Linked DNA regions of Homo sapiens. The protein of the gene in region 1 purifies or fractionates together with the protein of each later gene. This does not show direct contact. Each region holds a gene or a part of one and is shown on either strand. Other genes may lie near its edges.

The links. Proteins that work in one complex are often made in the same cells at the same time.
Region 2: the proteins of HP1BP3 (region 1) and SON fractionate together in Homo sapiens (co-fractionation; one large-scale study listed by BioGRID). This does not show direct contact.

What each region holds. Positions count from the first base shown.
Region 1 is NC_000001.11:20,785,208-20,788,807, reverse strand, and holds the start of HP1BP3 (heterochromatin protein 1-binding protein 3), read left to right. Parts: upstream 1-1,500; 5' UTR 1,501-1,613; intron 1,614-2,135; exon of another isoform or gene 2,136-2,622; intron 2,623-3,600. UniProt on the Homo sapiens protein: Component of heterochromatin that maintains heterochromatin integrity during G1/S progression and regulates the duration of G1 phase to critically influence cell proliferative capacity.
Region 2 is NC_000021.9:33,567,006-33,570,734, reverse strand, and holds part of SON (protein SON), read right to left. Parts: intron 3,579-3,729; coding exon 3,468-3,578; intron 1,765-3,467; coding exon 1,648-1,764; intron 1-1,647. UniProt on the Homo sapiens protein: RNA-binding protein that acts as a mRNA splicing cofactor by promoting efficient splicing of transcripts that possess weak splice sites.

The sequences.
Region 1 (3,600 bases):
GGGTCTTGCTCTCTCTGGGTGGAGCGCAGTGGTGATCATAGCTCACTGTTGCCTCAAATCCTCGGCTTCAGCGATCCTCCTGCCTCAGCCTCCCGAGTAGCTGGGACTAAAGGCCTTTGCCACCATTCCTGGCTTATTTATTTATTTAGAGATGGGGTCTAATTATGTTGCCCTGGCTGGCCTCGAACTCCTGGCCCCAAGCCTCATGCAATCCTCCCACCTCGGCCTCCCAAAGTGCAGGGACTACAGGCGTAAACCACCATGCTCGGCCTAAGTTTTGTTGTTGTTGTTTTAAGCAAAAATCTGTGGAGGAGGAAACATCTCCCAGTTTGCTCTCATCTGAGTCTGCTTCTTACATGAGATGGGTCTAAAGACATTTTAGGGTAAAAGAAGAACGGTAGGATGTTTTAAATGTACGAATACATAAAAATGGAAGTCTTTGAAAAGGAAGACAACAGAAACGTTAACAACGAAGGGAGTGAGCAGAATGAAGAATGGCATAAAAGAGCAAAACCCCTTCTGAACAGCTGGAATATGACACCAGAGTACTAAAGACTGGTAATGCCATCAGGATATGAATGATAACGCACACCTCGTAAAGAATTTTTTATGCTGGCTGTGAAATTTGAACTGATAGAGTGGGGTGGCTGTGGCAGGGAAAGCTGGTGAGACAATTATGCTAATGGCAGGGCCAGACGACTGGGTGAGTGCTTAAATGGTGTCGTAAGTCTTTATAAACCTTGGCACATACGTTTGAGTACTGGTCATCTACTGTAAGCTTGGGACAATTCTACTGGTATTTCCTTACATTTATTACCCAGTCCCTCCCCTGTCCCCCAACACCTGAAACTTTAAAAACAATCTTTCCAAACTAGCTTTGAAGAGCTGTACTTTTCCTTCGTATGTACGTTGTTTAAGTACGCTGATAGCAACGCAATATGACAATTCAAAGGGAATCCCGTCTTCTAATCTCAGGGTTTTCATTCTGGGGAACTCTCCCTGCATGTGAGGATTAGGGAGCCCGGAAAGCCCGTTTCAACTTTTCAGTTCTGAGTCCCGAGTCACTACTCTGCCCTGTACCGTCTGGAGACTTAATGGGAGCGAGTGCGAGGCAGTGAATTCTCCGCTCTCTAGTTTTCCAATTCTACGGTCTTCAAAAAAAGGTTTGCTCTTGAGCTGCGCCTAAACTGAGAAGCGGGAAAGGCTAGCCCCGCTAAAGGCGGACGAGTGGCAGAAGCGGAAACCCAGTTAAGAGAAGGGACTGCCCTGGAGAGCACAGAAAGCGAAGGTTAGCGGGGGAAAGCGGCGCCCCTCCGAGGAAACCGACACCGCCCCGCCACGCCAAGGCAATGGGCGCCACCACGCAGCGCCGGGAACGCGCGCCGACGCCCCGCGCTCCGCCGGCGTCCGCCCGTCCCCGCGCGCCCCCTCGCACCCCACGCGCGGGAGGCGGGGCCGGCGGGGGCGCGCGCGGGGCCGCGGGTAGGGGGGCGGGGCGGCAGAGCTCGGCGGCTGGGACTGGAGGACAGCGGTGGCGGAGGCGACTAGCGGCGGCGGGAGCGGCGCCGAGAGGCCGTGCGGGACGCGGGCGCCAGGACCGGCCGAACGCAGAGGTAACGCAGGACCGAACAGGCGGCCGGGGAGTGGGCGCGGGCTCGCTGGGCCCCGAAGGCGAGTGGCGGAGGCCGCTCGCCCGGGGCGCCGACGCCGCTCCCAGAGAGGAGGGGGCGGGGCGCCCGGGTCCCCGGAGGTGGCGCCTTTTGTCTGCCTTACCCGGCCGCTCCGCCCCGCTCCCTTCCTCTCTCCTGCGACCTAGCCCCCTGCCCTTTTGGTGGACTCCTCCTCAGGGGCCCTCCGGCGCGCGCGCTCCCGCCCTTGTTTTGTTTGGATTTGGGGGAGGAGGGGGAGCTCTTCTCTGGCCGTGCGACCCTGCGTCCCAGCGCGCCTGCGTCGGCGTCCTCTGCCCGCCCCGATTGGCTGAGGGCTGCGCATGCTCCGAGGCCCGCCGCGGTCCGGCGTCCGCCCGCGCCCTCCCCTCACCCCACTCCCTCAGCGGTTTTCGGAGCCGGTTCGAAAGATGCCGGCGGCGGTGACTGGCTGCGGCGGGCCCGCCCCCCGGGTTCTCCGCCCCCGCCGCCGCCATTACGGAGCTCCCAGTGGTGAGTGTGCGGAGCGCCGAGGCTCGCGTTCCGCCGCTGCTTCCGTCGCCGGGGCGGGCGCCGCGGTGTCCCTGCCGAGCGTGAGCCCCGAACTGTCACCGCGCCGAGCCCCAGCCTCATCCGTCGGTGTCCGCGGTCCGAGCTTTCCCCGCCTCGCTGGCGGCCCGCGCTCTCCCCCGCCGTGCGCGTTCGCCGCTGTGGCCTGTAGCTACCTCGCCTCGCTGCTTTGTCTCCGCTGCTCTTGCCGTCCTTCCCGCGGCCTTCTGCGGGCGGGGCTGTCGGCTGTCGCTTTGCTGCTCCGCGACGGCGGCCTTGAGTCTCGCTCCCCCGGTGGGAAACGTAGAACTGGTTACTCGCCACCTTAGGCGGTGGGGTTTGAATGAGAGCGGTGCCTCGGTAGGTCGTCAGAAAGTTACAGTCGCCCATCTGAGCGTTTGTAAGAGATGGAGGCAGGAGTGGTGAGGTGAGAGCCCCAGATCTGAGGGTTGGTACTGCATTAACAGCTGTGACCGGGGACAGCCACTTAACCTTTTTGAGAAAGAGTTGTCTCCCGTACGGAGACCGGACCGGGTGAACTGTGCTGCCGCATCCGCGTGCACGTTCTCTCTGTTGTTTATTGTGCTTCCTGACTTTGCATTGCATTAAAAAGTGAGAATCCAATTCGAAATAACGTCTAAAAATCGCCTGGGGCTTTTTGAGCACGCTGTCTTGTCTTAGAGTGAAATTAGAGGTGACTAGTGTCATTTTTGAAAGGTGCTCTAATTTTGTTTAACCTGACATAGGCAAAAAACTTGTTAGCTTTTTGATTTTTCATTGCTCTTCTCAAAAGTTTAGTGTAATTTGTTTCAAAATAGAAGTAACATTTTAAAGTTTGCTGGGTTGGTTGGTTTTGGCTTTGTTTTTAAGCTTGCTTGGAAGATTGTAGGGCTGGAAGTTAGTGGAGAACGTATACTGAACTCTTCATTTCCGGATGAAAGTTTTAACTCCTTACCCAGTTAGATTGTGATTTTATTGAGATGAGACACTGTAGTGTCCTTAGTATCTATGCCCAAAACAGACACTGAGTATATGTTTGCTTATATAACTTACATTTGAAAATGAAAAACAAGTGGTGTCAGCAGTCAAATTACAGGCATGCTTTTTGTGACATGACTCGTTAAATCTGAGTGTAGTGAATGACTTAAGATTGGGAACAATGTGAGGTGTTCAGCGCATCACTAATGACATGTATTACATATATTTTATGGTAAAATGTGAAATTATAGTGCTTTCCCTAAAATGCATATTATCAAGGATATCAGTAAACTGAAATACGTTGTTAAACTCCTCACTTTTCTACAGCCTTCTCTTAATGTAGAGGAAATAAATTAAAACTGAAATTTGGGGCTTTTTATTTCTACAATACTTTTTTTTATTGCTTGCATTCAAATAATTTAAAGCC
Region 2 (3,729 bases), on another chromosome or scaffold:
CTGAGTACTTAGCTTCAAGACTAAATAGTATTAAAGAATTAAAACTAAAGAAATAGATGTACATTTATAGTTCTTCCAAAGATGAAAGACATTTTTTCAAATATTATATAAATCACTTTCATAGTAACTATAATATAGAAGTCCAAGATTAATCCAATCTTTAAAATATTTTGCTATATACATTTTCACCCTTTATTCTAACACCAACCCTCAGCAAACTGCAGAAATTGTAATTTCTTAATGAATCTAACTGTGTACTCACTATACACATCAGTGCAACTACTTCCCAAAAAAAGGCAGGCATAATGAGTATACATGATGTTTCATATTAATTTGTTAGTAAGATCAACAAAGATAAAGCTATCAAAATTGAAATAAATGTTACAAGATTAAAATACACAAAGCAACCAATGTCTCATTTTTCAGAAATTCAGCTCATTCACTGGCACTCATAGCAACTCTCTATAGGTAACCATCACGTTACTGATTACCACTAGACACCTCAGAGACTTTGAAATTCCAAAGAGTTACTTGCCCATGATTACACAAGGAGTCAGGAGTACAACAGGATAAAGAAACCTTCCCAATCCATTAGACCACGCGGCCTCCCAGTTTCAGCACTGCTATGCTGCCAGTACTCCTGTAACAAATTTCCCATCACCCATCCAACCAAGCTTTGTCCCTTCACCACAACGCGTTTCTTCAGAATGCCCTTCTTAGCCACCTAAGACTCCCCCAATGATGAGGCAGCCGTAGGTGGAGTTCACAGGTCTCACTGCAGAATCTGAAACCAGATGCACCTACATCTTCGTAGCACGAGGCGTCCATTCTCTCCCTTGATTTTAGGTCTTACATATCTGTTTTGTCATGAAATTAGTGGTTCTCAAATTGAGCCTGTGGATCACCAGAGGCCACTAGGGCCTAAATGGTGGTCCACAGATTAATCTCCATCCCATCCCCTTCACCACAGCCCACCCCACTCCAGCCATCCTCCCTCAGGCTTCCAGTCCCATGGCAAGATCACCACATGCAGAGCTAATACTAGGGCCTCCCAACCACTTGCTGTAACCAGCAGCTGACAACCAAAAGGTCCTGGGGCTACAGGTCACAAGAGGAGTGAGGAACGGGGGCCAAGAGATCTTACAAGAAGGCACAGGCACTAATGAAGCGGGTGGGGTGCGAGGGCAAAGGAATAGAGGAATGGAAAATTAAGGTGGTAGAGGGCTCTTGGGGGCAGTGATCCACTAAAAATAAACCTGTAATAAAGTATCCCATGATGAAGAAAAATTTGAGAACCACTGCTTTGAAATGATTAGGTTAGTAGTCCAGCAGGAACTGTGGAATATTCTGAACAGCACCTGATACACTATTAGCGTTCAAAATAAAGTTAAATCACCCCTTCAAAAGCAGCAGTAACAATTTTTAAAATAACCTTATAAGTTAGTGGCTCTTGAGCCACATTTATACATTTGCCATTTTCTCATGAATCCAGTCCGTCTTCAGTGTCCGCCCTGGAGCATATACACATAGCAAATTTACTTGGAACTTTGGTTAGAGTCACTGGTCTTTTCATGCAGTTTTAATAAACAGTTTCCAAAAAATTTAAACTTTTTGTTCGACACTTTCATATGTGCATATACTGTGTACCTTTTTAATCCAGGCTTGGGCACCAGTATTGGCCAACTGTTCTTGTGTCAAAACCTGTACTCCTGTACTTCCTGTGAACTGGCCAGGAATAGAGTTCAGCTGAGCCCAGGCATCAATCTGAAGAAAAGAAGTAGTCTCAGTTAACTAAGTAAAATTACCTGATTAAAACATCACTGGTAATAATTCACTAAAAATGGCTGAAAAGCAGACTTAAATATTTAACTTTTAAAACATATTTAACATTAAATGTTTGCCTAAACTTTCTAAAGAAGCAGTTTGACAACATTTAGTGAATCCCATTAATAAGATTTTGAAATGTATCTAAAAGCACAGCTACTAAAAAATACAGCTGTTAATATTCTTCAAACTATCACACAGATACACTAAAAATGCAAAAAAGAGCTCATATGACAATGGGTCCCCACCCTCCCTTCCTATCTCATACAAATGTATTGTAATACATGTCATGACAGCCTGGATTCTTAATTACTTCCTTTGAGACATTTATACAGACTAAATTCATGACACAGGTTTAAAGAGTTTAAATGTAGGAAACTGTCCACTTGAATACATAAACGACTATTTTTTTTTGAGATGGAGTTTCTCTCTTGTTGCCCAGGCTGGAGTGCAATGGTGCGATGTCTGCTCACTGCAACCTCCTCCTCCCGAGTTCAAGCGATTCTCCTGCCTCAGCCTCCAGAGTAGCTGGGATTGATTACAAACATGCGCCACCGCGCCCGGCTAATTTTGTATTTTTAGTCGAGACAGGGTTTCTCCATGTTAGTCAGGCTGGTCTTGAACTCCTGACCTCAACTGATCCGCCCGCCTCGGCCTTTCAAAGTGCTGGGATAACAGGCGTGAGCCACTGCACCCGGCCGTAAAACAACTTTTTAAAGAAGCTTGTATACTTTTTTTCAGTCACCAACATTTGTTGTGATAAAGATCAGCTGTCATTCACACAAATTAGATTTACTAAACACCTTGCACTGTCAGCAATGTATTTCCTGTCTGAACATGTACTTACTGATTTACCATAAAACAGTAGAAATGAAATGGAGAGGCTGTCCATTGTTAAAAGCACAGACTCCAGATTCAGATTGCTTGGGTTTGAATCCCAGTTCCCCCACTAATTAGTTGTGTGACTATGGATATCACTTAATCACTCTTTTGTTTTTTTTAGACAGTCTCACTCTGTTGCCCAGGCTGGAGTACAGTGGCGCGATCCTGGCTCACTGCAACCTCTGCCTCCCAGGTTCAAGCATTTCTCCTGCCTCAGCCTCCTGAGTAGCTGGCATTACAGGCATGCAACACCAAACCCAGCTAATTTTTGTATTTTTAGTAGAGATGGGGTTTCATCACCTTGGCCAGGCTGGTCTTGAACTCCTGACTCCTTGCCCCCACCTCGGCCTCCCAAAGTGCTGGGATTACAGGCATCAGCGACCATGCCTGGCCTTAACCACCCTTTACTTCAGTTTTCTCGGCTGAAATATGGCAACTATTAATACCTACACATTTCATAGGGTTGTAGGCACTTAGTTGTTTTTATACACCAGATTGTAAACTCTGTGAGGACAGGGAAATTTTTCTATTTTGTTCTCTCAAGAAACAGTTCCTGCCACATAGTAAACAATAAACATTTATTGAATAAATGATCAGGCCTCGAATCACTTTCATTTAAAATAAGACATTGAAAATAAGGTAAAGGATGTTACAACTCAACCATCTAGTTAGCAAAATTCTTATTTAGACATTAAAACTGGTACATTGGTGTGAGTTGGCTGATGGTAAATAATAATTTTTTTTAAAAAACTGCTACATACCCTTTCCTGAGCTCTATTTAACATGCTCATGGCTTCAAGATCAAATGCATTCTCACTGAGTCTTTTCTGAGCAAGTGCCCGTTCACTCATTGCTGTAGAGATGTCCACAGGCTAAGAAAGAAAACAGAGATAATTATCTCAAATTACCATAGTCCCCTAAATTCTGAAAAGTACTCATATCTTTAGTTGCTACATATCAAAAACAAAATAATAGTCTTATAATACTAATAATCTTGGAAAACAGGGAGAAGACTCAGAAAGA